3 linked regions of the Homo sapiens genome follow. The protein of the gene in region 1 purifies or fractionates together with the protein of each later gene. This does not show direct contact. Each region holds a gene or a part of one and is shown in the gene's direction. Other genes may lie near its edges. The genes, in order: DYNLT2B, CLMN and ABHD17B.

What was found.
Region 2: the proteins of DYNLT2B (region 1) and CLMN purify together in Homo sapiens (affinity purification with mass spectrometry; 2 studies listed by BioGRID and IntAct, with this or other methods). This does not show direct contact.
Region 3: the proteins of DYNLT2B (region 1) and ABHD17B purify together in Homo sapiens (affinity purification with mass spectrometry; 2 studies listed by BioGRID and IntAct, with this or other methods). This does not show direct contact.

What each region holds. Positions count from the first base shown.
Region 1 is NC_000003.12:196,314,233-196,324,039, reverse strand, and holds the start of DYNLT2B (dynein light chain Tctex-type protein 2B), read left to right. Parts: upstream 1-5,799; 5' UTR 5,800-5,887; coding exon 5,888-6,000; intron 6,001-6,448; exon of another isoform or gene 6,449-7,066; intron 7,067-7,197; exon of another isoform or gene 7,198-7,598; intron 7,599-7,808; coding exon 7,809-7,942; exon of another isoform or gene 7,943-7,955; intron 7,956-9,807. Other genes in the region: TM4SF19 (transmembrane 4 L6 family member 19), read left to right, coding at 43-326. UniProt on the Homo sapiens protein: Acts as one of several non-catalytic accessory components of the cytoplasmic dynein 2 complex (dynein-2 complex), a motor protein complex that drives the movement of cargos along microtubules within cilia and flagella in concert with the intraflagellar transport (IFT) system.
Region 2 is NC_000014.9:95,197,909-95,207,870, reverse strand, and holds part of CLMN (calmin), read left to right. Parts: intron 1-3,407; coding exon 3,408-5,033; intron 5,034-9,962.
Region 3 is NC_000009.12:71,871,445-71,881,406, reverse strand, and holds part of ABHD17B (alpha/beta hydrolase domain-containing protein 17B), read left to right. Parts: intron 1-6,323; 5' UTR 6,324-6,326; coding exon 6,327-6,793; intron 6,794-9,962. UniProt on the Homo sapiens protein: Hydrolyzes fatty acids from S-acylated cysteine residues in proteins. Has depalmitoylating activity towards DLG4/PSD95. Has depalmitoylating activity towards GAP43. Has depalmitoylating activity towards MAP6. Has depalmitoylating activity towards NRAS.

The sequences.
Region 1 (9,807 bases):
TACTTATCGCCTGACCCCTGGTCTCCTTATTTTTTGGGATAGGAATTATCTGTATGACCGTTCGCTCTGGAACTCCGTCTGCCTGGAGCCCTCTGCAGCTGTTGTCTGGCACGTGTCCCTCTTCTCCGCCCTTCTGTGCATCAGCCTGCTCCAGCTTCTCCTGGTGGTCGTTCATGTCATCAACAGCCTCCTGGGCCTTTTCTGCAGCCTCTGCGAGAAGTGACAGGCAGAACCTTCACTTGCAAGCATGGGTGTTTTCATCATCGGCTGTCTTGAATCCTTTCTACAAGGAGTGGGTACGAATTATAAACAAACTTCCCCTTTAGGTATCCCTGGAGTAATAATGACAACAAAATTCACTGCAGGTCGGTGGAATGATAGAATGCATTTTAAATCACATTGTAAACTTCCAGGTGATCCATGGATAGGATAAATAACTAAGTTATTATAATTGTTTAGGAATTTATAGTCCATAAAATATCCTCCAGCCAGGGTCTCATTTCAGCTTCTTGACAATCCCATAAAGTTGGCCATTTGTTACACATAGAGAAGTTGAGGCTCACAGAGGGTAACAGGCTTGCTGTAAAAGCACACAGTGAAGTTAAGGTGAAGTCAGCACCTGACCCCCTATCTCCCTGTTGTTTTGTTGTTGCTGAGACAGGGTCTTGCTCTGTTCCCCTGTCTGGAGTACAGTGGCACAATCATAGCTTACTGTAACCTACAACCCATGCACTCAAGCGATCCTCCTGCCTTAGCCTCCGAGTAGCTGGGACTACAGGCACACACCACTACACCTGGCTAATTTTTAAATTTTCTGTAGAGAGGGAGTCTCGCTATATTGCCCAGTCTGGTCTTGAACTCCTGACCTCAAGTGATCCTCCCACCTTGGTCTCCCAAAGCGCTGGATTACAGGCATGAGTCACTGTGCCTGGCCCCAACCCCCATCTTCTAAATTCAACTTCTCCAGTTATTGTGGACTAAATAGTGTTTCCTCCAAATCTGTAGGTTGAAGCCCTAACCCCCAATATGACAGTCTTTGGTGGTGGCACTTTTTTTTTTTTTTTTTGAGACAGTCTCGCTCTGTCACCCAGGCTGGAGTGCAGTGGCGTGATCTCGGCTCACTGCAACCTCCACCTCCCAGGTTCAAGTGATTCTCCTGCCTCAGCCTCCTGAGTAGCTGGGATTACAGGCATGTGCCACCACACCCAGCTAATTTTTGTATTTTTAGTAGAGACGGGGGTTTCACCATGTTGGCCAGGCTGGTCTCGAACTCCTGGCTGCAAGTGATCCGCCCACCTTGGCCTCCAAAAGTGCTGGGATTACAGGTGTGAGCCACCGCGCCTGGCCATGATGGCACCTTTAAATTAGTAATTAAGGTTAAATGAGACTGGGCGCAATGGCTCACACCTGTAATCTGAGCACTTTGGGAGGCCAATGTGGGAAGATCACTTGTGACCAGGGGTTTGAGACTAACCTGGGCAACACAGTGAGACCTCGTCTCAAAAAAAAAAAACACAACAACAAATGATTAAATGAGGCCATAGGGTGGGACCCTAATTAAATAGGACTGGTGTGCTTATAAAAAGAGGAAGAAAGAACAGAGCTCTCTACACTGGCTCAAAGAAAAAGGCCCTGTAAGGACCCAGTGAGAAGGCGGCTGTCTGCAAGCGCAGGGGCGAGGCCTCAGGAGATACCAAACCTGCTGGCACCTGGATCTTGGACTTCTAGCCTCCAGCACTGTGAGAAAATCTATTTCAGTTGCTTAAGTGCCCAGTTCATGGTATTCTGCAACAGCAGCCTGGCAGACTAATACACCAGCATTCTCTTCACTAGTGTTCAAGAGTTCAACAAGTAGAGGAGCATCACCTCTGTCCACACAGTTTGGATATCTGTCCTCACCCAAATCTCATGTTGAATTGTGATCCCCAGTGCTAGAGGTGGGGCCTGGCAGAAGGTGTGTGGATCATGAGGCGGATCCCTCACGGCTCAGAGCTGTCTTTGTGATAGTGGGTTCCCGCGAGATCTGGTCATTTAGAAGCGTGTGGCACCTCTGGCCTCTCTCTCGCCTGCTCCTGCTCTCACTATGTGACTCGCCTGCTCCCTCTTCACCTGCTGCCATGAGTAAAAGCTCTCTGAGGCCTCCCCAGAAGCTGAGTGATGTGGGTGCTATGCTTCCTGTAACCCCTGCAGAACTGTGAGCCAATTAAATCTCTTTTTCTTTTTTATGGAGTCTCGCTCTGTTGCCCAGGCTGGAGTGCAGTGGCATGATCTCGGCTCACTGCACCCTCTGCCTCCCAAGTTCAAGCGATTCTCCTGCTTCAGCCTCCTGAGTGGCTGGGATTACAGGCACCCGCCACCACACCTGGCTATTTTTTTTGTACTTTTAGTAGAGATGGGTTTTCACCATATTGGCCAGGCTGGTCTTGAACTCCTGACCTTGTGACCCGCCCACCTCGGCCTCCCAAAGTGCTGGGATTACAGGCGTGAGCCACCCAACCCGACCTCACAGCTGCTTCTCACACGGCACCTAGAAGCAGGGGCCTCCTGCTCTCCCACTGCGGGGTTTTCAGTCAGGTCGGGCTGGGTGGTGAGGAGAGTCAGAGCGGAATGAGGAAGATGCTGGTGGGAGAGTGTGGTGTGACAGGCAGGAAGAGGACAAGGCAGGCAGAAGCAGCCTGGGAGGAACCTGGAAGATGGGCACTGGCAAGAAAAGTGGTGGGCGGTCCCCAGAAACGAGTTTGAGAACCCCAGGCTCTGGCCGGGCACGGTGGCTCACACCTGCAATCCCAGCACTTTGGGAGGCCACGGTGGGTGGATCACCAGAAGTCAGGAGTTTGAGACCAGCCTGGCCAACATAGTGAAACTTCAGCTCTACAAAAAATACAAAAATTATATGGGCGTGGTGGTGCATGTCGGTAATCCCAGCTATTCAGAGGCTGAAGCAGGAGAATTGCTTGAAACCAGGAGACAGAGGTTGCAGTGAGCCGAGATTGCACCACTGAACTCCAGCCTGGGGGACAGAGACTCTGTCTCACAAAAAAAAAAAAAAAAAAAAAAAAAGAGGCCGGGTGCAGTGGCTCACACCTGTAATCCCAGCACTTTAGGAGTCTGAGGCAGGCAGATCATGAGGTCAGAAGTTCACGACCAGCCTAGCCAACATGGTGAAACCCCGTCTCTATAAAAAATACAAAAATTAGCCAGGTGTGGTGGTGTGCACCTGTAATCCCAGCTACTCGGGAGGCTGAGGCAGGAGAATTGCTTGAACCCGAGAGGCGGAGGTTGCAGTGAGCCGAGATCATGCCACTGCACTCCAGGCTGGGGGTCAGAGCGAGATTCTGTCTCGGGAAAACAAAAAACAAAAAAAACCCTCCCGGAAACACAGCACCCCAGGCTCTGTTGGAAGGGAATGTGGGGCCCAGGTGCTGCTCTATCCCCTCCTCAGTCCCCTGGATCCCAGCTTGATTCCTCCACTATTCTGCCTCAGTGAGGAGTTGCTGAAGCACTGGGGGCTTCCAGAACACAGGGGTGCCTCCCTCTCCCAGGCTCAGAGGCACGGTTCTGTCATCCGACAGTCCAACCAGCAGAGCTCGTAGGAGGCAGGTCCCTTCAAACACCACCTCACCCTTTCCTCTCCAGGGCTGCTGGCCTAGCAGGCCTGCCAGGGTGGGGAAGGTGGACACAGAGGCCTGTGGGAGACACAAGGAGGCACAGCCTCTTGAGCAGGCAGGAAGTCTCCAAGTCCAGAGAGCACATCCTATTCCTGCATACAACATCCAGGAAGCTTGCCTGGGCTTGTCTCACATTTCCCTCTTGGCTGGTTAGTTTCAGGGTCATGGCTAGGATATGCCTGATATGGAGAAGCTTCTCTTGCTGGGGAAAGGTACTGACACCTCCACACAACTCACGCAGAATTTTTTTTTTTTTTTTTTTTTTTGATACAGAGTCTCATGCTGGAGTGCAGTGGTGTGATCTCGGCTCACTGCAAGCTCCGACTCCCTGGTTCAAGCAATTCTCCTGCCTCAGCCTCCCAAGTAGCTGGGATTACAGGCACATGCCACCACACCCAGCTAATTTTTGTATTTTTAGTAGAGACCGGGTTTCACAATGTTAGCCAGGATGGTCTTGATCTCCTAACCTCATGATCCGCCCGCCTCGGCCTCCCAAAGTGCTGGGATCACAGGTGCGAGTCACCGTGCCTGGCCAACTAATGAAAAGTTTAAAGAATTTATATCTAGTTTTGGATGTTAGGCATGCACACACAAGTGCATGCACACTCATACACATCATCTCCACAAGCCCCATCCTGGCTCAGCCCTATTCTGATGGGTCAGCAGGACCCCAAGGAGAGAAGGGTGGGTCCTTGGCACTAAGACAGTTCACAGTGGTTAGCTGACTCCTTCTTGCCTCCATTCTTTCAGGAACTGCATATAGTACAGAACATGACAGCGATTCGAAAAACAATATCCCAGCTGGCTGTGATGGCTCATGCCTGTAGTCCCAGCACTTCGGAAGGCTGAGGTGGGATAATCACTTGAGCCCAAGAGTTCAATAGTAGCCTGGGCAGCATAGCCAGATCCTATCTCTACAAAAATTAAAAAGATTAGCCACGCGCGGTGGCATTCGCCTGTAGTTCCAGGTACTCCAGAGGCTGAGGTGGGAGGACTGCTTGAGTCCAAGAGGTCGAGGCTGAAGTGAGCGGTGAGTGTGCCACTGCACTCCAGCCTGAGAAACAGAGCAAGACCCTGTCTCAAGTGGGAAAAAAAAAAAAAGGAATCCCTGCCCTTTCAGCCTCTCCTGTAAACAGGGATTACAGGCACGAGCTACCTCATCGGGCCTTAGTTTTTGAAGCTAGCAGAGGCCAAGATACAACAGCCTTCTAAAACAGGACCAGGGACTGGTGCTTATAAGCAGGGAATGCGGCAGAGTACGATGGCTCACGCCTGTCATCCCAGCACTTCGGGAGACCGAGGTGGGCGATCACCTGAGGTCAGGAGTTGGAGACCAGCCTGGCCAATATGGTGAAACCCCGTCTCTAATAAAAATACAAAAAAAATTAGCCGGTCGTGGTGGGGCGCGCCTGTAATCCCTGCTGCTTGGGAGGCTGAGGCAGAATTGCTTGAACCTGGGAGGTGGAGGTTGCAGTGAGCCGAGATCGCGCCTCTGCACTCCAGCCTGAGTGACAGAGCGAGACTTCGTTTAAAAAAATAAAAATAAATATATATTTTTAAAAGCGGGGAATGCAGCCTAAGTCTCTTTCCTTCCTTCCTTTTTTTTTTTTTTTCTTTTTTTGAGACGCAGTCTCGCTCTGTCGCCAGGCTGGAGTGCAGTGGCGCGATCTCGGCTCACTGCAACCTCGGCCTCCTGGGTTCAATAGATTATTCTGCCTCAGCCTCCAGAGCAGCTGGGGTTACAGGCACGCGCCACCACGCCCGGCTAATTTTTGTATTTTCAGTAGAGATGGGGTTTCACCATGTCGGCCAGGATGGTCTTGAACTCTTCCTGACTCAGGTGATCCGCCCGCCTCGGCCTCCCAAAGTGCTGGGATTGCAGGCCTGAGCCCCCGCACCCGGCCGCCGCAATTACTTCTGCACCAGCCTAATACCTCAAGTCCAGGAGCCTCAGGCCCCGCGTCTATTTCCTCCGACTGCGGCGCGGCTGATACTGCCTGAGGCGGGTGGAAGCTGTCGCGCGTCCGGACGCGACCAGTTCCCGCCCAGCAGCCGGTGCGCAGGCGCGGGCAGGGAGGGCGGCTGTGCGGGGCGCTCGCGGGCTTCAGCGAGGCGGGAGGGCGGCCCTGTTGCCCTGGAGACGCTTTCCCTGCTGCCGGCCGCGACCGCAACCCGCTAGGCCTTCATCGCGAGCTACGCCCGGACCGAGAAGCCCCGGCATGGCCACGTCCATCGGAGTGTCCTTCTCGGTGGGCGACGGGGTGCCTGAGGCTGAGAAGAACGCAGGGGAGCCCGAGAACACCTATATTCTGCGGCCTGTTTTCCAGCAGAGGCGGGTAGAGGACGGGCTGTGGCGGGGCGACCTCGAGCGCGCTGGTCTGAGGGGCGGAGCTCGCCTGGGACCTGGGCCACGGAAGGAGCGCGGGGGACGCGCGGGGTCCGCGGGGCGGGAGGCGGGAGGCCGCGAGGCGGGCGGGCGGCCCTGCTGTGACGTCCGGGCGCCCCTCCCGCTGCAGGGGCCGCAGGGGACCCCACCCGCTTCCTCAGTGTTTGGGCGCCGGGCGCGTCTTAGGGTGGCGCGGCGGGAATGGTTGGCCCTGGGAAACCCGCGATGGCGTCCTGAGTAAGGAGATGGGTAGAATAGAGGCAGGAAGCCACTCGCGTCGGATGCCGTTCAGCCGTGATTCGAGGGTGACTGTGCACACGGGTGCCAGGATGGGCTCACTCCCGGCGCGGGAGCTGCATCTGTGCGAAGTCCTACCCGGGTGGGATCTGGAGGCCCTTAGACCACCGCAGCGAGCCCTCGCTAGGATTAAGGCTCACGGGCCAGAGCAGAGGGTACTCAGCTAGGTTTGTGAGATCACTAACTTTACACACACACACACACACACACACACACACTGAAAAAAATATCAGGCTCACGGGCCAGAGCAGAGGGTACTCAGCTAGGTTTGTGAGATCACTAACTTTACACACACACACACACACACACACACACACACTGAAAAAAATATCAGGCTCACGGGCCAGAGCAGAGGGTACTCAGCTAGGTTTGTAAGATCACTAACTTTACACACACACACACACACAACACACACACACACTGAAAAAAAATGTCAGGCTCACGGGCCAGAGCAGAGGGTACTCAGCTAGGTTTGTAAGATCACTAACTTTACACACACACACACAACACACACACACACACACACACACACACTGAAAAAAAATGTCAGGCTCACGGGCCAGAGCAGAGGGTACTCAGGTTTGTAAGATCACTAACTTTACACACACACACACACACACACACACCACACACACACCACACAACACACACACACACACACACACACTGAAAAAAATGTCAGGCTCACGGGCCAGAGCAGAGGGTACTCAGCTAGGTTTGTGAGATCACTAACTTTACACACACACACACACACCACACAACACACACACACACCACACAACACACACACACACACACTGAAAAAAATGTCAGGCTCACGGGCCAGAGCAGAGGGTACTCAGCTAGGTTTGTAAGATCACTAACTTTACACACACACACACACCCCATATTTGCTTGGCAAATATGGAAAACAGGAATTTTGATTATAATGTGATACAAATTTCTTTGTTTATTTTTATTCTCTTGGTAACTCACAGAAAAAGTGATACAAATTTCATACAGGATTTTTCCCTTGGGTAGAATGAACACAGAGAAAGATACCCTCAGTTATCTTGGTAAAAGGTTCTGAATGCCCAGAATGCCATTCAGCCGTATTTTTTTATTTTATTTTATTTTATTTTATTTTGTGAAAGCGTGCAGAACAAAATTAACAACAAGTATATATTTTGTTTTGGGGGAGAGGGGAGTATGAGAAGCTCATTATTGGATGTATTGAGTTGCCTAATAAACATTCATATGGAGCATGAGTTGGAATGTGTTGAAGTTCAGTGCAGGTCCAGGTTGAAGATACACATGTGGCCTATGATTTGTCTTAATTTGTTTATATTTTATAATAAAAAATATGAAAAAGAAGGATTAAGTGGTACTAATGACAAAAAGATGGGAGAAGTTGCGGTATGAAGGTAAGCTGGGGTTGTGGAGTCACCGACTGGATGTTCACAAATTGTTCCATTCAGGTTCAGGCCCTCTGTGGTTAAAGACTGTATCCATGCTGTGCTCAAGGAGGAACTGGCAAATGCTGAATATTCTCCAGAAGAAATGCCTCAGCTTACAAAACATTTATCAGAAAACATTAAAGATAAATTAAAAGGTAATCATGGTGATAACTGGAAATGACTCATTCTCTTCACAGAGTCAGTATTACCCATTTGCCCCCTCTCCATCTTTAAACAAAGGACATTGGGGCCAGGTGTGGTGGCTCACGCCTACAATCCCAACACTTTAGCATGCCAAGGCAGGAAGATTGCTTGAGCTCTGGAGTTCAGTACCAGCCTAGGCAACATGGTGAGGCCTCATGTCTATTTTTCTTTTTTTTGAGATGGAGTTTCACTCTTGTTGCCCAGGCTGGAGTGCAATGGCATGATCTTGGCTCACTGCAAACTCCGCCTCCCGGGTTCAAGTGATTCTTCTGCCTCAGCCTCCTGAGTAGTTGGGATTACAGGCATGCACCATCACGCCTGGCTAATTTTGTATTTTTAGTAGAGACGGGGTTTCTCCATGTTGGTCAGGCTGGTCTCAAACTCCTGACCTCAGGTAATCCACCCGCCTCGGCCTCTCAAGGTGCTGGGATTACAGACATGAGCCACCGCGCCCAGCCGACCTCATGTGTATTAAAAAGCAAAATAAAGGCCGGGCGCAGTGGCTCACGCCTGTAATCGCAGCACTTTGGGAGGCTGAGGCGGGTGGATCACGAGGTCAGGAGATTGAGACCATCCTGGCTAACACGATGAAACCCTGTCTCTACTAAAAATACAAAAAATAGCTGGGTGTGGTGGCACACGCCTGCAGTCCCAGCTGCTTGGGAGGCTGAGGCAGGAGAATCACTTGAACCCAGGAGGTGGAGGTTGCAGTGAGCTGAGATCGCGTCACTGCACTCCAGCCTGGGTGACAGAGTGAGACTCTGTCTCAAAAAAAAAAAAAAGCAAAATAAAAAAATAAAACATCTCTATTAAAAAAACGTAAATAGAATGTTAGCTGTGGATTCTATTAAAGACAACTTTTTCTTCAGTGTCTTGTCTTCTCTAATTATTTGGTGACTTTTACTCATGTAAGTTTTTGCAGATGGGGGAAAAGAGTGAAGATGTGAAATAAAACACTGTCCAAAAAATCTTAGTATTCAGAAAGACCAGAAAGTACAGGGACTCCTTTCCCCTGTATTTCTTGGTTGTTTCTTCCCCCAAGCTGTCAAGTCCTCAGCCTGGCATTTAGTACCTGCAGTCCATCTCTCCTCCCTAATCCTTAGCTACTTCCCTTACTCAACCCTCGACCCCTACCAAACTACATCTGTAGAGCATATTTTGTGCTTTTCCTACCCTGTTCTCTTTGTCTCTCTGATTGTTTTGTTTTTTTTTGTTTTGTTTTGTTTTTGAAATAGGGTCTTGCTGTTTTGTCCAGGGTGGAGTGCAGTGGTGTGAACATGGCTCACTGCAGCCTTGACCTCCTGGCTCAAGCGATCCTCCCATCTCAGCCTCCCAAGTAGCTGGGTCTACAGGCTTGTGCCACCGTGCTTGGCTAATTTTTTAATTTTTAAATTTTTCTGTAGAGATGGTGTCTTGCCATGTTGCCCTGGCTGATCTTGAGCTCCTGGCCTCAAGTGATTCTCCCACCTAGGCCTCGCAAACTGCTGGGATTGCAGGTGTGAGCCACTGCGCCTGGTCTCTCTCTTTTGTTAATAATGTTATACCGTCTGATCTGAAAAGTTCTTTTTTTTTTTTTTTTTCTTTTTGAGACAGAGTCTCGCTCTGTTTCCCAGGCTGGAGTGCAGTGGTGTGATCTCAGCTCACTGCAACCTCCTCCTCCTGGGCTCAAGTGATCCTCCCGCCTCAGCCTCCCAAGCAGTTGGAATTTCAAGCATGCGCCACCACACGTGGCTAATTTTGTCTTGAACTCCTGACCCTCAAGAGATCTGCAAGCCTTGGCCTCCCAACATGCTGGGATTACAGATGTGAGCCACCG
Region 2 (9,962 bases), on another chromosome or scaffold:
CTGGGGCTCTGTTTTGTACAGAAGAACTTCCCAGGATCCTCCATGCCGTGACTTTCATCCTGGCCCCCACCTGTGTGTGTGTTTCCTGCCTGTCCCTGCACCACATACGGACCCCTTACAGGGCGCTGTGGAAGCAGGAATTCCTGGGCTGGAATGCCAGTTCTCCACTTGGAGCTGTGTGACCTCAGGCTGGTGACTTGACCTCTCTGATACACATCTATATTGAATGTGTATCTATTGAATGTGTGTCACCTGTAAAATGGAAATCTGACCCACATTTCAGGGCTATGTGAAGGATAAACAGTTATGTGAAGTACCTAGTACTGTGCCTGGAACAACAGTGGATGTTTAGTGAATAATGGTGACTTGGTCAATGGGTATAAAGTTACAGTTACATAGGAGGAATCAGTTCTGGTATTGTATTGCAGAGCAAGATGGCTATAGTTAATAATAATGTAACCAGTGGCTCACATTTATAATCCCAACACTTTGGGAGGCTGAAGCAGGAGGATTGCTTGAGCCCAGGAGTTAAAGACCAGCCTGGGCAACAAAGCGAGACCCCATTTTCTTTTCTACAAAAAAGAAAGAAAGAATAATATACTGTGTATTTCAAAATGTCTAAAAGAGAAGATTTTAACTGTTTTCATTACAAAGAAATGATAAATATTTGAGGTGACGAATATATTGATTTCTCAGATTTGATCATTTTACAATGTATACACGTTTTAAGATATCACATTATACTCCATAAATATATACAATTATTATTTGTCAATTAAAAATTTAAACAGAATCAAAAGAAAGGGATCCAGCCCTGCCAATATCTTGATTTTAGTCCATTGAGGCCTGTTTTGGATTTCTGATGTCCAGAAGTGTAACATAACAAATTTTTGTTGTTTTAAGCAAAAAAAAAAAAGTAGTGATTATTATTTTGCAATTCAATTTTCCTGGCCTGTTACTGTATTTTGAAATACTAGGCATTGGGGCTTTCATTAGCCCTGAGCTCTTAATCTGTAGGCAGAGTTTGAAATCAACTAAAACATACGGTATTTGTGTGAGTCAAAGCCACAGCTAAAATTGAGCAAATCTGACACAGATCTCCCCAATGCTGAGGTCAGAAACTGCAGATGGGAAAAGATTGAGCCAGAAATAATACCTGGAGAAAGTCATTCTGGTTCACAGAACATGCTGCATCACTGCAGAACAGTCTATTTACATCTACAAGGGAATACAGATGAGAATTTACAGCTTATCCAGACACGCAGTGAACTGTTCTTAACAATTCTGCTGAGTTATTTCATTTCAGTAAACATTTGTTGGGCCCTGACCATGTACCACACATTGTTGCTAGCTTTGTGGCCCAGCACATGGTTTCTTTTGGTAAATGTGCCATATGCATTTGAAAAGAACGGGTCTTATACAGTTAAAGAATACTGGTATTCTTTAATATGCTGTTAATATGTTAATATGCTATTCTAGTATTCTATATTTATACTGATTTTTCCTGCTTTCCTGATCCATTAATGCAGGAGAGAAATGTTGAAAAAAAAATCTCCAACTGTGATTGTGAATTTATTTCTCCTCTTAGTTCTGCCAGTTTTTGTTTAATATATGTTGATGCTATGCTGTTAAGTGCACAGACACAATTTATTATATTTTCCTGATGACTTGATTGCTTTATTTTTATAAAATTTCCCCCATCTTGAAGTGTGCTTTGTCTGATATGAACATAGCCATAGCAGCTTTCTTATGATTAGTGCTTGTGTCATAACTTTTTCCATTTTTTTCCTTTCAGTGTATGTACACTTATATTTAAAGTATGTCTCTTGTAAACAGTATACAGTTGGGTCTTGTATTTATTCTGACAAACTCTGTCATTTAATCAGTACATTTTTCATACGTTTATACGGGTTTCATCTACCATCTTGGTTATTGTTTTCCATTGGTCTGATATGTTCTATGCTCCATTGTCCTTCCTTCTTAACTTTTTGGGGATTATTCAAGGATTTCTTTTGTGTGCATTTATCCCCTTTATTGGTTTTTTAACCACATCACCTTGTTTTATCTTTTTAGTAGCTGTTCTAGTGATTATAATACTCATCTTTAACATACATCAGCTTACCTTAAATTAATATACTACTTCAAGTACAATGCATATTTTACATATTTGTATATATTTTATATATATCACATATATAATTTTACTTCATCTCCATTACTTTTGCTACTATATTGTCATTTACTTTACTTCTGCATATGTTTTAATCCTCAATACCTTGTTATTTTTGCTTTAAATAGCTAGTAGGCTTTTTAAGAAAACTTTGAAGTAGTCTTTTCTATTGACCATATATTTACCATTTCCAGTACTGTTCATTCCCTCCTTTAGGCTTTATATCTGAGATTGTGTTCTTTGAGCCTGAAGAACTATTTCTTTTGTATTGCTTGTAGCACAGATTAGTTATTCTAGAGCCTTTGCTTGTGAATTCTAACTCCGGGTCCTATATGGGTCTATATCTAGTGATTATTTCTTCTCTTGATTGTGGATTTCGTTTTCCTGCCTCTTCATGTCTTGTAATTATTTTATGTCAAACTTGGTATATAAAAGAACAATAGAGGTTGAAGCAGATGTCATTTTTTTCCCTCAGGAAATACAGCCCTTTCCCAAACAAGTGTGTAAGATGAGGAGCTGTCGTTTTGATCATATCAGCGTCAATAGGAGCTATGTTGCAGTTTTATTTAATTTCTTCTCTCTGGTTTTAAATGATTTGAGGCTGAAGTCAATTCACACTATCGGTGCATTGGGAGTCAAGCACTGCAGTACCACAGAGTCATTTTCTGCTTTTCAGCCCTGCCCCCAGCTGGCTCTTACACAGCAAAATTCCCTGTGTGGGCTAATTAGTATATGAAGAAAATTGCTTTTGTGTTTGGAGGGCTTCCAGATTCACTCTCTCATACCAGCCCACACAATCAATAAAGATTTGGCTGATCTTTCCTTATCTCAGGTGGATTAGCTCTTCTCCAAGTCCATACCCAGACTAGGCAACATGGTCCTCAAGCATGAAGGGGCTGACAATCTCTGCTCACTTTAGAAGGGATTGTCCTTCTTTAGAGCTTGGTTTCATTGAGATTCGTTAATCCATAGCTTTTTAAAAAACATGGTATTTTATATTTTTATTTATCTGATGTTTTCATATTTCAGCAGGAACAAGAGTCTTCTCTAACCATTTACATCTTAGAACACTTTGCATTGGTTTGAAGTGGCTTTTTCCATTTTTGTTTGTTTGTGTTTTGGGAAAGGTGGATATGGGTTGTACTTAAATATTCTTCTTACTCATGTTGCTCTGTGCTTTTTTTTGTTGTTGTTCTTTTGTTTTTTTTTGTTTGTTTGTTTTTGTTTTTTTTTGCAGGAAGATATTTTCGATTCAGATAAAGAAGTTCCTATCGAATCCACTTTTGTTCGCATCAAAGAAACTCCTTCTGAACAGGAGAGCAAAGTCTTCGTTCTGACTGAAAATGGGGAGCGTACCTACACTGTTAACCATGAAACCAGCCACCCACCACCCTCCAAAGTCTTTGTCTGTGACAAGCCCGAGAGCATGAAGGAATTCCGCCTGGATGGTGTTTCCAGCCATGCGCTGTCAGACAGCTCCACCGAGTTCATGCACCAGATTATTGACCAGGTCCTGCAAGGGGGCCCAGGTAAGACCAGCGACATCAGTGAGCCATCTCCAGAATCCTCCATTTTATCATCCAGAAAGGAGAACGGGAGGTCCAACTCTTTGCCGATCAAGAAAACAGTTCACTTTGAGGCTGACACCTACAAGGATCCTTTCTGCAGTAAGAACCTGTCCCTTTGCTTTGAAGGGAGCCCAAGAGTGGCAAAGGAATCATTGAGGCAGGATGGACATGTCTTGGCAGTTGAGGTTGCTGAGGAAAAGGAACAGAAACAGGAATCCTCGAAGATTCCAGAATCCTCCTCTGACAAGGTCGCTGGTGACATTTTTTTGGTGGAGGGCACAAACAATAATTCTCAGTCTTCTTCCTGTAATGGTGCTTTAGAGAGTACAGCCCGCCACGATGAAGAAAGTCACTCTCTTTCACCCCCAGGAGAAAATACTGTGATGGCCGATTCCTTCCAGATCAAGGTTAACCTGATGACTGTAGAAGCTTTAGAGGAGGGAGACTATTTTGAAGCCATCCCATTAAAAGCCTCAAAATTTAACAGCGACCTAATAGATTTTGCTTCTACCAGCCAGGCTTTCAACAAAGTTCCTTCACCTCATGAGACAAAACCTGACGAGGATGCTGAGGCTTTTGAGAATCATGCTGAAAAACTAGGTAAAAGGAGTATTAAATCTGCTCACAAAAAGAAGGATTCGCCAGAGCCTCAAGTTAAGATGGACAAACATGAACCTCATCAGGACTCCGGAGAAGAAGCTGAAGGCTGTCCTTCAGCCCCAGAAGAGACACCAGTGGATAAAAAGCCAGAGGTGCATGAAAAGGCCAAGAGAAAGTCCACCCGTCCTCATTATGAGGAAGAGGGAGAAGACGATGACCTCCAGGGTGTGGGCGAGGAATTATCTTCCAGCCCCCCAAGCAGCTGTGTCAGCTTGGAGACCCTTGGGAGTCACAGCGAAGAAGGCCTGGATTTCAAGCCCTCCCCACCCCTCTCAAAGGTTTCCGTCATTCCCCACGACCTCTTCTATTTCCCACACTATGAGGTTCCCCTGGCTGCAGTTTTGGAGGCTTATGTAGAAGACCCGGAGGATCTAAAAAATGAAGAAATGGATCTCGAAGAGCCAGAGGGCTATATGCCAGACCTGGACTCCAGGGAGGAGGAGGCCGATGGCTCTCAGAGCAGCTCCAGTTCCTCGGTGCCAGGAGAGAGCCTCCCCAGTGCCAGCGACCAGGTGCTGTATCTCAGCAGGGGTGGTGTGGGTACCACACCAGCCTCAGAACCCGCTCCACTGGCCCCCCATGAGGACCACCAGCAAAGGGAGACCAAAGAGAATGACCCCATGGACAGCCATCAGGTACTCAACCGTGGGATTTGGGAACCCTGGGTCCTGCCTGGGAAACTTGATAGTTCTTTGTCTGAAGCTCAGCTTCTTGCTCCATAAAATAGCGATGAGGGGGCTTCCCTTGGGACTACTATGGTGCAAAATTCAAAGAGGCACCTACTGTGAGGCTCGGGCAAATGCAGGGTTGGCACCTGAGAGTGAGCACCTCCTGAAATCCTGCACACGGGCACCTCACTGGCTTTCCCCCAGTCCTGGCCCTACTCACAGGTATGCTCTGAGGATCAAGTGAGGTCACCTTTGAGGGTCCAGCAGAGGAGGGGCAGAAATGATTTCAAAAGCAGTCATTGTCACAGGGCAAGGGTTGAAAAACTAACCGTTGCATACTATTCTCAGTACCTGGGCAGTGGGATCAGGAAAGCACATCTCCCTTATCCTGTTACACACACATTTCTAACACAGAAACCAAATATTAGTGCCCAACAGGAATAAGTCCTTTAAAAATCAAAAAAGCTCACCATCACTGATCATTAGAGAAATGCAAATCAAAACCACAATGAGATTCCATCTCACACCAGTAAGAATGGCGATTATGTCAGGAAACAATAGATGCTGGCGAGGCTGTGGAGAAGTAGGAATGCTTTTACACCATTGGTGGGATTGTAAATTAGTCCAACCATTGTGGAAGACAGTGTGGTGATTCCTCCATCTGATTTCAGAACCAGAAATACCATTTGACCCACCAATCCCATTACGAGGTATATGCCCAAAGGAATATAAATCATTCTGCTATAAAGACATACATGCACACATATGTTTATTGCAACACTATTTACAATAGCAAAGACATGGAACCAACCCAAATGCCCCCCAGTGATAGACTGGATAAAGAAAATGTGGTACATATATACCATGGAATACTATGCAGCCATAAAAAAGAATGAGTTCATGCCCTTTGCAGGGACATGGATGAAGCTGGAAGCCATCATTCTCAGCAAACTAAAAGAGGAACAGAAAACCAAACACCGCTTGTCCTCACTTATAAATGGGAGTTGAACAATGAGAACACATGGACACAGGGAGGGGAACAACACACATTGTTGGGGGGTGGGAGGCGAGGGGAGGGAGATCATTAGGACAAATATCTAATGCATGCGGGCCTTAAAACCTAGATGATGGGTTGATAGGTGCAGCAAACTACCATGACACTTGTATTTCTATGTAACAAACCTGCACACTCTGTACGTGTATCCCAGAACTTAAAGTAAAATAAAAAAAAAAAAAAAGGAAAAAAAAGCCAATAAAGGAAGAAACAAACAAACTAATAAAAAGTCCTTTAAAACTCAAGGCTGGAGTCAGCCTTCATGACCCCATCACCCAGGTACTGAGAATAGTGTACTAACCGTTGGGTATTGCAGCCAGGGGAACCTCATAGTGTGGGAAATAGAAGGGGTCGTGGGGAATGATGGAAGGCCTTTGAGAGGGGTGGGGAGGGCTGGAAATCCAGGCCTTCTTCGCTGTGACTCCCAAGGGTCTCCAAGCTGACACGGCTGCTTGGGGGGTTGGAAGATAATTACCCCAAGCTTCAGCATCATGCAATATACCTACATAACAAACTTGCACATGAACCCCCCAAATCTAAAATAAAAGTTGAAAAACAAAAAATATATATATATATATTTTTAAATTTTTTTATTATACTTTAAGTTCTGGGGTACATGTGCAGAACGTGCAGGTTTGTTACATAGGTATACATGTGCCATGGTGGTTTGCTGCACCCATCAACCCATCATCTACATTAGGTATTTTTCCTAATGCTATCCCTCCCCTAGCCCCCGACCCCCACAGGCCCCGGTATGTGATGTTCTCTCATAACTTACCACTAACATAGGCATTAGAAAGTTAAAGAAAAAAACAGTCATCGTAGCTAACATCTAGCATGCACTTAGTGAACACTAGCCTGTTCTGCAGTAACTTAGGAGAAACAGAAGAAGCCCTCATGTTTGACTCCAGTTTTGATTTTTTTAAAGGACTTTTGCCTGTTGGGCACTAATCTTTGGTTTCTGTGGTTTGAAATTGGTGTGTAAATAGCATAAGGGGACATGCGCTCTTCTGAGCTTGAGCAGCTGGTCACATTCTTATCTGCCACTTGTGTTCCCACTTCATCTGGCCCAGTAGCTCACAAAGGGCCACTGGAGTGATCAGTGAAGGGGGGTGCCTGGGCGGCTGGCCTGATGGGGAGGCTCCTCCTGCAGATGCCACGTTAATAAGTGCTGCGTCCTGCTACGGCACTGGGGATCCAGGAGGTGAGTCCGAAACCACATTGGCCATGCCCTGCTGGATATAGTGCACACAGGGCATCCAGGGCAAGACAGCCAGGGAGGAGAAGGGCCTGGGCTCGGCCTCTCCAGCCCCTCCATGAGCTCACCTGCTTACTCATCCAACCCCATGGAAAGCGATGCATCTGGCACTGCCAGGAAGATAAAAAAAGAAGGAAAATCCTGCCTTCGGTGTCTAATGCGGGAGACAGAGTCCCCAGTAACTGTACTGTGAGAGAATGTGGCCTCAGCCATTAGAGATGGGCCCAGCGAAGGGATTCAGGAGTTCAACAGAAGGAGGCTCCCACCCAGATCCAGAAAGGCTGCATGGGGGTTTTGGGGAGCCTAGAACTGGGGAGGAAGTTCTGGGTAGAGGGACTAAGGGTAGAGGTCCCCTAAGTGCAGGAGCCAGGTGGGAAAGTGACCAGCTATTTCAGATTGCATTGGCTCTGCCTCTATCTCAGACCCTTCCCCAGTCTGTCACTGTCCCTCCTCCCCAGCTCAGCTTGCAGAGGGATGACCCTAAAGCACAAGTCTCACCTTATCACTTCCTGACTGCTGCATCCAGGACAAAGTCTAAATGTCTTAGCATGAACTCCAAGACTCTTCCCGCTCTAACCTGGCCACCCACCCCTCTTTGTCTCCCTCCCCTCTAGCCAAGCCAGCATCCTCCCACACCCCCAGACATCCAGGCTCTCCTCTGCCTCCAGGTGTGACTGGGCTGGTCCCACCATCTGGGCAAGCAGTTATTCAACCTTCAAAGTCAATGCAAATGGCACCTCCTCCCAGAAGCCCTCCGACCTCCTCCCCAGGCAGAGCCATTGCTCCCTCCCTATAGCTGATCACATTTTTGACAATCTCTCCTTGAGTGCTTACCTGATTTCCATGGGCTTTGTTTTTCTCTCCCGAGAGAGTGTGGACATTTGTGTATTGATCTTTGGATGCTAGAGACCAGCACGGTGCCTGACAGGGCCTGCCAGTGTAGGGGACAAAGGTTTATTACACGATGGTTTCGGGGGCATACAGCAAATGGAAGGTAAATGAAACACTGAGATACATGACAAAGCCCTGGCTCATCAGAGCCCAGTGAGGGGCCCAAAGGACTGGAGCTGATTGGAGGATTGAGAGAGGCTTGCACCCTGCGGGAGCTACAGAAAAAGTCTGGTTCGAGTAGTCTTTTTTAAGTTTAAGTTTATTGACAGTTGAGTAGTTGGTGTGAATGAGTGGGGTAGAAGACCTAGAAGATTAGTTGAGCCAATAAAGAGAATAAGGGAAATTAATATAAGGGATCAGGTTCGTCCTAAAAGACACTGCAGATTTTAGCTAGGCCAGAAGTGGGGGGCTGGTTTTATTCAGTTTGCCAAATCTGAGCAATGAGGAGTGGCTACCTAAGCCCTAGGAGGAGCAGCATCCTCAGGCCGAGGGCCACATGGGCAGGGCTGCACACTCCGTGTTTGCCAACCGTGGAATGGATGGGAAGAGGGCTGGATGGCTCTGCAGGTGCCAGGGACCACGGCTGCCATCTTCCCCCTCTTCCCCCAGGGAGAGGAACCCAGTCCTCCACTTGCTTCCATGGCCTGCTGTGTGCTGACTTCTCTGAAGTCTCAAAATAAATAAATAAATAAATAATAAATAAAATAAAATGATGAATTAGTGGTTTGCATCCTCCCTCCTGGCCTATTGGATGTGGCCTGTGAAAATACAAATGTGGCAGTTTGTTCTCGAATGCTTTCCTTCCAGCAATTGCCAAAAGCAGAGAGTGCATGTGTCCAGCACTTGGACAGGTGATTTGCGGTGTGGCTGAAAGAGCCCTGGGTTGCAGTGGTAGAATCGGGAGATCTAGATTTGAACTCCATCTTACATGGATCTCACTCTTGGTGAGAGCGTGGGCAGATGAGCTCCCTTGGGTGCAGTGTGGGAATGAAATCAACACCGTCTGCCTCACTTGGCTCCGGTCCGCTGCCTCACCTGCCCAGCAAGCACTGCCCACTGATCCCCAGCCCACCTTGCAATTTGCTCCCAAGTGCAGCCCTTGCCTCAATCCGTGTGGGTGAGCGTAGGGGGAGGGTACAGCCCGTTTGATGAGGAGCCCAAGGTGAGGTCTGGGAGTCTTGGGTCCTGGCAGACAAGGAGATGGGATGAGGCATTTCTCTGATACCTTGCCTTCCTTTAAAAAAAAAAAAGAGGCCAGGAGCAGTGGCTCACGCCTGTAATCCCTGCCCTTTGGGAGGCTGAAGTGGGTGGACCACCTGAGGTCAAGAGTTCGAGACCAGCCTGGCCAACATGGAGAAACCCTGTCTCTACTAAAAATACAAAAATTAGCCAGGCGTGGTGGCAGGTGCCTGTAATCCCAGCTACTCCGGAGGCTGAGGCAGAAAAATCACTTAAACCTGGGAGGTAGAGGTTGCAGTGAGCCAAGATCAAGCCACTGCACTCCAGCCTAGGAGACAAAAGCAAGACTCCATCTCAAAAAAAAAAAAAAAAAAAAAAAAGAAAGAAAAAAAGATATTTTCCCAGCCAAAGGGACTAGAAAATGGCAAGTTTTTCTTCTGATCTTGAAAAAATAAATAAGCCCTCTGCTTGTTTCATCTTTCAAAAACAGTAGCATTTGACCATTGATGAGGGC
Region 3 (9,962 bases), on another chromosome or scaffold:
TTATGCCTATATTTTCTTTTGAGAACTTCATAGTTTAGATCTTACATTTAGTCTTTGACTCATTTTGAGTTGATTTTTGTATATGGTGTGAAGTAAGAGTAAAATTTCATTCTTTTGCATGTGGATATTATGTTGCCCTAGCACCATTTGTTGAAAACACTTCTTTCACCATTGAATTGTTTTGGCACTCTTGTCAAAAATCAACTGACCATAAATGTCAGGTTTATTTCTGGATTCTCAGTTCTATTCCTTAGATATATTTGTCCTTATGCCAATAGCATTCTGTCTTGATTACTGTTGCTTTATTATGAGTTTTGAAATTGGGAAGTGTGAATCCTCCAACTTAGGTTTTCTTTTCAAGATTGATTTGGCTATTCTGGGTTCCTTGAGGTTCTGTATGAATTCTCTGCATTTTGTTTTTCTTGATTATAAGTGGAGGAGTCTTTTTTCTTAGTTTTATTTTTTTATTTTCTATAGACCTTTATACTTTTATATAAATTTTATAATCACTTTTGAGTTCCTCAAATTTCTGCTGGAATTTTGATGGGAATTACCTTGAAATTTTCATTCTGGGAGAGTTGACATTCTCAATGCTATTAAGTCATTCTTTCCATTTTTTAATGTTCTTATTTAAAATTTTTCTGCATAAAGGTTTTCTGCATTCTATTTTATATTAATTCCTAGATAGTCGTTTTGGTTGTGGGTGCGATCTTATTTATAATTTTTTTAACTATTTTTAGTTGTTTAATGCTAGCTAACATTGAACTGTACCAACTTTACCTAAGTTCATGCATTTGCCAAAATTGCTGAGAAGTCTCATTTGTTTTAATACTTTCTAGATTCTTTTGGTTTTCTATCAGGGTAATTATATCATCTACCAAACATATTGTTTTGTCCCTGTATATCTATTAAGAAAACCATGTGTTTTTTTTCTTTAGTTCATTAATGTGAATTACTTTGGTTTAACATTGGAAGATTTGTCATTCTTGTCTTTCAGCTTGATTTTGTATTTTGTATTTATATACACTTTATATGTTGTTTCTTTTTTTTAAGGTTTTTAAGGTTTTTTCATGCATGTTCAAAGTGAAGTGGACTTACAGTTTTATTTACAGTTCTAAGTTTTGGGATAAAGGTTATAATAGCCTCAGAAAGCAATTGTTGAGCAGCATTCATTTTCTGGAATAACTTCACTTAATGAAAGTATTTTAAGTGAAGGTGGTCTTTGATTTCCCTTTGAAGTTCTGATGGTTATTTGCATATTCTAGCCTTTGTGCCAATTTTGTCCTTTTATATTACTCAAGAAGTGCGTGAGTTTTGTCTAGGTTATTTATTGACACATGATATTCTTTCATTTCTAGAAACTATGTCTGTAGCTCAAAGTCCTTTTTCCTTTAGTACATTATTTCGTTTATTTTGCTTATCTCTTTCTTGTGATCAGTCTTGTCTGAGTACCCTTTCCACAAAACAGTAGTTATGAGTTTGGGTTACAGAGTCATTCTGTCATGTATCAGTTCCATTGATCAGATTTGTGACATTAGGCAACTTATGTAACTATTCTATGCCTCTGTTTTCTCAATTGCAAAATGGGTGTAATAATAGTCCCTAAAGCAGAGGATTGTTGAAAGGATTAGTTAATATGTGAAAAGTGTTTAGAATAGTGCCTGACACTTTGTAAGTGTTCAGTTAATGCTATTTGCTATTAGTAGTAGTGGAAGCCTTTTCTGAAATCAGCTGTTGGTTCTCCATTGCTTTTTGTTCTTTGTTTTGTTGATATCTGCTCTTAATTTTCTTTTTCTTGTTTTCTTTTTGTTTACTCTCTTCTTAAGTTGGACACTAATATTTAAAGCTAGACTTTTGTAATGGATAATTGTAACTCCTTTAGATGTGCCCTGCACTATCATTTTTCTGATGATTATATCTGACTTATTAAGAGTCATGCTTATATTCAGGCTTTTCTTCTATGTCTTAAGCTTATCAGTATCAGTAGCATCCTCAACAAGTCAGGTACCCCAGCACATTTTTACCTCTTAAGTAGTCTCTCTTTTGTCAATCCTCTTCGTATTCATATTCACCAAAGTTTTTGTTCTGGATTTTTAGGGATATACTTTGTTGTCTTCACCCTCCTTGCTCCCATTGCTCACTTGTACAAAAAACATTGTATTAACTATTCTCCTTTATTTCTCATATCTCAGATATCTCATAGAAGTCCCTTGGGATTTGGGGGGTTTTTGTTTGTTTTGTTGTTATTGTTGAGACAGGCTCTCACTCTGTAGCCCAGGCTGGAGTGTAGTGGCTCTATCACAGCTCGCTGTAGCCTTGACCTCCCATGCTCCAGCAGTCCTCCCACTCCAGCCACGCCAGTGGCTGAGATTACAGGCACACACTACCATGCCCAGCTAATTTTTGTATTTTTTATAGAGATGGAGTTTTGCCATGGTGCTCAGGCTGGTTTTCAATTCCTGGGCTCAAGCAATCCTCCTACCTCGGCCTCCCAAAGTGTTGGGATTATAGGTGTGAGCCACTGTGCCTGGCCTTCCCTTGGATTTATCTCCTTCCCTCCTTGCTGGAGTTTTTCAAAGAGAGACTTGATTTGGTTAAGTCTTACGAGTTTTTGTGGGCCTGCAGATCTCTCTCTCTCTTTGTTTTTTTTGATAGAGACAATGTTTTCCTATGTTGCTTAAGTGGTCCTCCCATCTTGGCCTCCCAAAGTGCTGGGATTACAGGAGTGAGCCACCACACCCAGCCCAGATACCTTTATCCTTATATTAAAACTGTATTTTTGTTCTATGTACAATTCTAGGTTAAAAGTTTGATTTCATCTTTAGCTTAAAATTATCTCTCCATTGTCTTTTGGCTTCCAGTGTTTATATTAGAAAGTCATATGTTCATCTGATCTTGTTCATTTTTAAGTAGTTTGTTGTTTTTTGGTACACTTTGAGGTGTTTCAATCTGACTTTTTTTCCCCCTTTAATTCTGAGAAATTCTTAAATAGTCTTATCTTTATTTTCTCCTGGAACTTCTATAGTATGGATAGTGATATTTCTACTTCTATTTCTATCTATTAAATTTTGTTGTTTTCTGTCTCTTAATTCCCACAAAAAAATTCCATATTTGCAAATTACTCAACCTGATCTTTTAGCTCACTGATGTGTTTTTCAACTGTTAACTGCTCAAGCAATCCACTGCGTCTGGCATGAGTTTTATAAGAACAAGTTGGACTTGAAATTATCTAAGTTTAACAAGCTATTTCAGTGATTTTTTTTTTTTTTTACAGAATAAAATGTTTTTCTTCAGTAACTTGCTCACACTATACTAAAACCTAGATTTATTTGTTTTGTTTATAGTTTTTGTGAAATTTTTCAGACTTAAAAAGTATTCAATTAACTTTTGAAAGTAGGTCTGTGTTGCTGCCCTATACCAGGCCTCTTATTAGGAAAGTGATCATTTGCAAGTTGTTGTCATTAAATAAGCCCCAGTTATCTGGCTTTTGGGCAGTGGAAGAGGGGAGTCATTCTGTCAGCATTAAGGAAGTGAAGTTGTCATTAAACTAGACCCTGGCACTGCAGTTTTTCTCCTTTCTGCTTCTCTCCTTTGGTGTTCATCCCCAGAAACTTCTTCACAGCATTATATATGTTCAACCAGCCAGCTTTATTTCAAAAGTAGTTTATTATAGTGTATGAAAGTTTTTCTGCTGGGTGCGGTGGCTCATGCCTGTAATCCCAGCAGTTTGGGAGGCCAAGGCAGGCAGATCATTTGAGGTCAGGAGTTCGAGACTAGCCTGGCCAACATCATGAAACCCCATCTCTACTAAAAATACAAAAATTAGCTGGGCATGGTGGTGTGTGCCTGTAATCCCAGCTACTGGGGAGGCTGAGGCAGGAGAATCACTTGAATGTGGGAGGCGGAGGTTGCAGTGAGCCAAGATCGCACCACTGCACTCCAGCCTGGGCGATAGAGTGAGACTTCGTCTCGAAAAACAACAACAAAAGTGTTTCTGGCTAAGAGATAAATTATAGGACTATAGTCTAGATACGTACCATTTACTTATTAAGCTTTTTAAAAGGCTATTGTGGCTCAGCAGTCAATGGTATATGAGGTAATCAGGGTTGACAAATAACCATAGACAGATATTAAACAGACAGCACTGATATTATACCTTGTACCTCATCATCTTTCTGCAGGTCATTTCCTCCTCTGGAACAGATCCTTTGAGTTCCTTCCCTTTCATCTTCTTCAACAGACACTTTATCCTCCTGACCAGGATAGTAAATTTGTAGCCAGAGTCTATAGTAAACATCACTAATTTATCACATCTTTTGCTGGCTAAGCCCTGTGTATGCCTTAGAATCATTCTCAGCACAACACTTCAGGAAGCCCTCAGTTAAAGTTAGCAGATGACACTTAGTTGTTATTTCTGTCCTATTTCTTGTTCCAACCAGAGTAAGCCATTAACTTATTCAGGCTGTATTTTGAAGCCTAAAAAGAAATAAAGGTAGGAAGCAATTAAAGCATTTCCTAATATCCAAGATGTTTTTCTGCCCTTCCCTCACCTTTTGAAGTCTTTTATGTTATACCTACCCTTGTTCCTCTCTTCCTGTGCTTTTTTCTGCTGCTTCTTATAAACACATTTATACTGAGCATTATAGGATATATTTGATTCTGTATTGAGTGAAAAGGGCATTTTTTCCCCCAGATATTCTCAACCATTTAGTCACTCTGTTGAGTTGTTTTCTTCCCATTTTTGGTGTAATAGGGTACTTTTTTCCCCCTATTCTTATATTTAGATTTTTTTTTTTTCTTTTTGGAGAAAATTGGATGCCACCAAACCTGTAAGGTGTTGGTTTTAAATGCCTTTTCTCTGGAACTAAGCAATGGCCTAATTTTGCTAAAAAGAGACAGGAATTTGAAAAAGGACAAGATAGAAGGAAATACTGATAGAACTAACAAGTATTACTTTATTTTTGTCCCTAAGTTAAAGTGTGACAATGATATGGCCATCACTCACCGTATGTTGTATGATGGGCCTTCACTACACCAACATTTGATATTCACAACCAGGTCCTTCAGTGTAGGTATTGGCCTTGTTTACTTATGAAGAAAATGAGAGTCAAAGAGATAGTTTGCCCAAGGACATACAGCTGGCAAACGGTAAGTGGTAGAGTTAGGATTTTACCCCAGCTTCCTAACTTTAAACCTTGTACTCTTTCTCTTCCAAACATTTAGAAAAGTTTACCTTTAGTAGATTTTACCTTTTTTCCACAATAAACTTTATATTATAGCCTTTTTAGTTTGGGCAGTAATTACATACATACATACATGCATGCATACATACATACACTTTAATGTTCTATAGGTTATTTGGGCCACTGGCACTGTGACCAAAGTGATAGTCTTCTGAGCGTGTTCTGAATCTGTGAGGCAGTGTAGCCCAGTAACATAGTGTAGTGACAGCCTGGAGTCAAATCCTGGCTCCACCACTGCCTCATCTTGTGCAAGTTTCCTTTCTCACAACAACTTACACAGTTGTTCTGAGAATTAAACCAAGTAACACACATAGAGCACTTGGCACAATGCCTGACAAATAGCTTCATAAATGCTATTAGTATGTATTCACTTTATGCTAAATTCCTAGCTTCTCCATGAGGTTCTAAGAACTTTTGCTGAGTTACATAGAAATTACAGACTACACTAAAGATATTTCATACCTTCAGGTTATTTGTAAAGAAATGGCAAATATTACCTTTATCATTTTTGACATTTATGTTAAATGAGATAATAATCACTGCTATTTGAAACCTGTCATATAGGATTTGAGTCTGTCTGCTGGTCAGGAATATTTGCCTCACCCCAGGATTTAAAGTACTTCTAGAAAGAAGCCAAAGGCCGGGCGTGGTGGCTTACTCCTTGTAATCCCAGCACTTTGGGAGGCCGAGGTGGGTGAATCACCTGAGGTCAGGAGTTCGAGACCAATCTGATCAACATGGAGAAACCCCATCTCTACTAAAAATACAAAATTAACCGGGTGTGGTGGCGCATGCCTGTAATCCCAGCTACTTAGGAGGCTGAGGCAGGAGAACCACTTGAACCCGGGAGGCGTAGGTTATGATGAGCTGAGATTGCGCCATTGCACTCCAGCCTGGGCAACAAGAGTGAAACTCCGTCTCAAAAAAAAAAAAGAAGCCAAAAATCTGTTTGGAATCATACCTAAAATAGTAATAGTCATTAACCACCAATAAAATTTACCCATGTCTGTGTTTTAACTTTTTATTGTATGAGTCTACATTCAGTTATTAAAATATTTGCTATCTCCTTTTCTTTTTCAGAGCATGAATAATCTTTCATTTAGTGAGCTATGTTGCCTCTTCTGCTGTCCACCTTGTCCAGGGAAGATTGCTTCAAAATTAGCGTTTTTGCCACCTGATCCAACTTACACACTGATGTGTGATGAAAGCGGAAGCCGTTGGACTTTACATCTGTCTGAACGAGCAGACTGGCAGTATTCTTCTAGAGAAAAAGATGCTATTGAGTGTTTCATGACTAGAACCAGTAAAGGCAACAGAATTGCTTGTATGTTTGTACGTTGTTCACCCAATGCGAAATACACTTTACTCTTCTCACATGGAAATGCTGTTGATCTTGGTCAAATGAGCAGCTTTTACATAGGACTAGGATCACGGATTAATTGTAATATATTCTCATATGATTATTCTGGATATGGTGCCAGTTCCGGGAAACCCACAGAGAAGAACCTCTATGCAGACATTGAAGCTGCTTGGCTTGCTCTTAGGACAAGGTAAATTGTGGTTGGAATTTATTTTTCATACTCGTGGTGGTTAGCTAAAAATATCTTGTGTAAGAATAGAATAAAAGCTGTTTTTATTATACATAACTGCTATATAGAGGTTATATTTACTATTATATACCTGTGAATAAATATTTTAGACAGCAATTTTAAATTTCACATAATAGCAAAACAAAGTTTTTAAAGACAGTTTCAGGTTTGTTTGTCTACATTAATACACGTATATATGTATGTTTTTTTTAACTTAAATTCTTAGCTGGAAGTCCATGGTGCATGCCTATAGTCCTAGTTACTTAGGAGACAAAGTCAGGGGAATCACTTGAGGCCAGGAGTTTGAGGCTGCAGTGAGCTATGATCGTGCCACTGCACTCCAGCCTGAGTGACAGCGTCAGACCTCATCTCTTAAAAAGTTAAAAAAAAAAAAAAATTAAATCCAGTGACAAATGTTTGGTTTTTGTAAGCTTTCTTATTGGAGTGTGATATAAAAAATGTTTATTCAAAGCTGCAACCTTTCAAGGAAATGAGAGAAAATACTGACATAGCTAATTATTCACTTGATCTGTCATTAACAGTATGAGGCTGGATTGCTTTCTATTAAAATCTTAAGCCAAGATTTGCATTATTTTATGTGATTACTTCTTGGGAAGTACAACTTAAAGATACCTTATTGGAATTATTTTTCAAGTATTCATTCTGTAAAACTGAGATTTTACTTTATATTCTGTGTTCCTAAAATTGGGAGAGATTATATCAAGTTTAAAAAAATTTTTTAGGCTGGGTGCGGTGGCTCACGCCTGTAGTCCTAGCACTTTGGGAGGCTGAGGCAGGCGAATCACAAGGTCAGGAGTTCGAGACCAGTCTGGCCAACATGGTGAAACCCCATCTCTACTAAAAATACAAAAAAAAAATGTCTGGGCGCAGTGGCTCATGCCTGTAATCACAGCACTTTGGGAGGCTAAGGCAGGTAGATCACGAGGTCAGGTATTCGAGACCAGCCTGGCCAAGATGGTGAAACCCCGTCTCTACTAAAAATACGAAAATTAGCCGGGCACAGTGGCGGGTGCCTGTAATCCCAGGTATTCGGGAAGCTGAGGCAGGAGAATCACTTGAACCTGGGAGGCGGAGGTTGCAGTGAGCTGAGATCACACCACTGCACTCAAGCCCAAGTGACAGAGTAAGACTCTGTTTAAAAAAAAAGAAGTTTTAATGTTATGATAAATTGTTTAATAAAATTTTCTTACTATGTCAGTTATTCTTTGATTATAGCAGCATACATTTTGGGGAACTAGAAATTGCATTAATCTTTTCTAGTCACCAAGATACCTAAACATTTTTCTTGAAAAAAAAATCACAATTTGGTAGACTTCAGTGTATTATTAGTCAGGTTAGTGTACAATAAACAGATACCTTAATATAGGCTATTCTTTATATTATATGAAAATAAAATATCTGACTTCCAGGATGTTTTAGACTGAAGCTATAGGATATAAAGAAAACTTACTGTTTCTAATTTAATGTTTAAATATTAAAGATTTCATTTAGTCAGGAAAAATTTCCTCAATTTTAATAATAAAGTAGTTAATATTATTAAAGATATTAAAAATATCTTTAAAACTATTTTTCCCTCCAAAGAAATGTAATAAAGTTATGCTCTCATAGCGAAGTTCTACATAAAAGGGATTCTTAAAATCAACTGAAATTATATAAAAACATAAATATGGGGAATAAGGAAAAAAAGATGGCAAGTAGTAGGTAAAGAGTTGATGGGGGATGGTAAAGTTATTGTTTAATTGATAAATTAAAAACTGCTTTAAATAAAAATCTTTTACATATATTGATATCAGTTCCATCAAGCCTTAAAACAAACAGAAACTGAGTGCCCACTTTTTAGAGTCAGTCAGTTGAATAACGTATAACAACTATAAGAAAGTATTATAATTAAAAAAATAGCTTTATTGAGTGATAAGGTTCACACTTTTAAAGGTTAACTTCAGTGGAATAATGAAGTTTTAAAGGGTGCTAAGTTAAAACTGATAGCCAGCTTTCATTATTAGTGCTTCCCAGTAACGCAAAAGGGTCACTTTACTCAAACAAAACATGTTAGTATTCAGTTCAGTGTTCTGTGTCTATATGAAAAAATCCCATTTTTTAAGTGGTCAACTTTACTGTTTTTTTCTTTTCTTTTCTTTTAATCTTGGCATTTACCAATTTGAAGAAAACTTTGAAAAATGATTTTCAGCCTTAATTTTTTTAACATATTTGATAGCCAGTGTTAATCAGGAATGGGCAGATTTCATCAATAATCCCACATACTATTTTAGCACTTATATTTTAGAATTTTAGACCTGTGTTTTCTTTCGTGTTGAAACCAAAATATAGTTGGAGTTTCATAAGTGTAGGTACTTTAGGAAATATTACTTCTCTGAGCCTGTGTTTCCTCATCTGTTTAATGAAGAGATTGAATTAAATGATCCCCAAGATCTTTTCCAATTCTGGAATTCTGTCATCTAATGAAATGTGTGTAATTAGAATACATGCCTTTTATTTTATTTGCCTGATTAAAAGTTAGGACTTAAGTAACCAGGAGAGAGAAAATAAATAATGAACTTAAATAATGTTCATTTTTGGGATGAATGAACATTGGAATGTCCTTTTTGGGAAAATTGGATATCCATAATAACTCCAATTTCTGACCTTCTGATGGACCAAAAGAAACTCGGGGCCTGGCATTCACTATGCACCTTTCCCACAAAGTCCTTGAGTTCCTCATCTGTGTGCTTCAGAGGTAAAAAACACTGAACTGGGAGTCAGTATACCTGGGTTCTAATTATAGAGCTGTCATCTACTGGTGACTTTGAAGATCTGCTCATTAGGCAGCTGGACTCTAGATTAGATGGTCTCTAAACTCCTTTCTAGCTCATACTGTTAGGCAGTTGTTACTCTTGTGAGTCCCCTCATGCTTAATTGTCAGCTACCTCTGCGACTCTATCCTTGAGCATTGTCATTGCTAGCTGTAGCCCAAATTTCATGATTGCCACCAACAATGCTGATATTCAGCTGACAGCAACAATGCAGCCTCAAGAACTGTGGTCATGCTGCAAATGTTCATTCTCCTAATTTCTTCATTCGTATGAAATATGTGCAACTAGGTCTGTTGTAA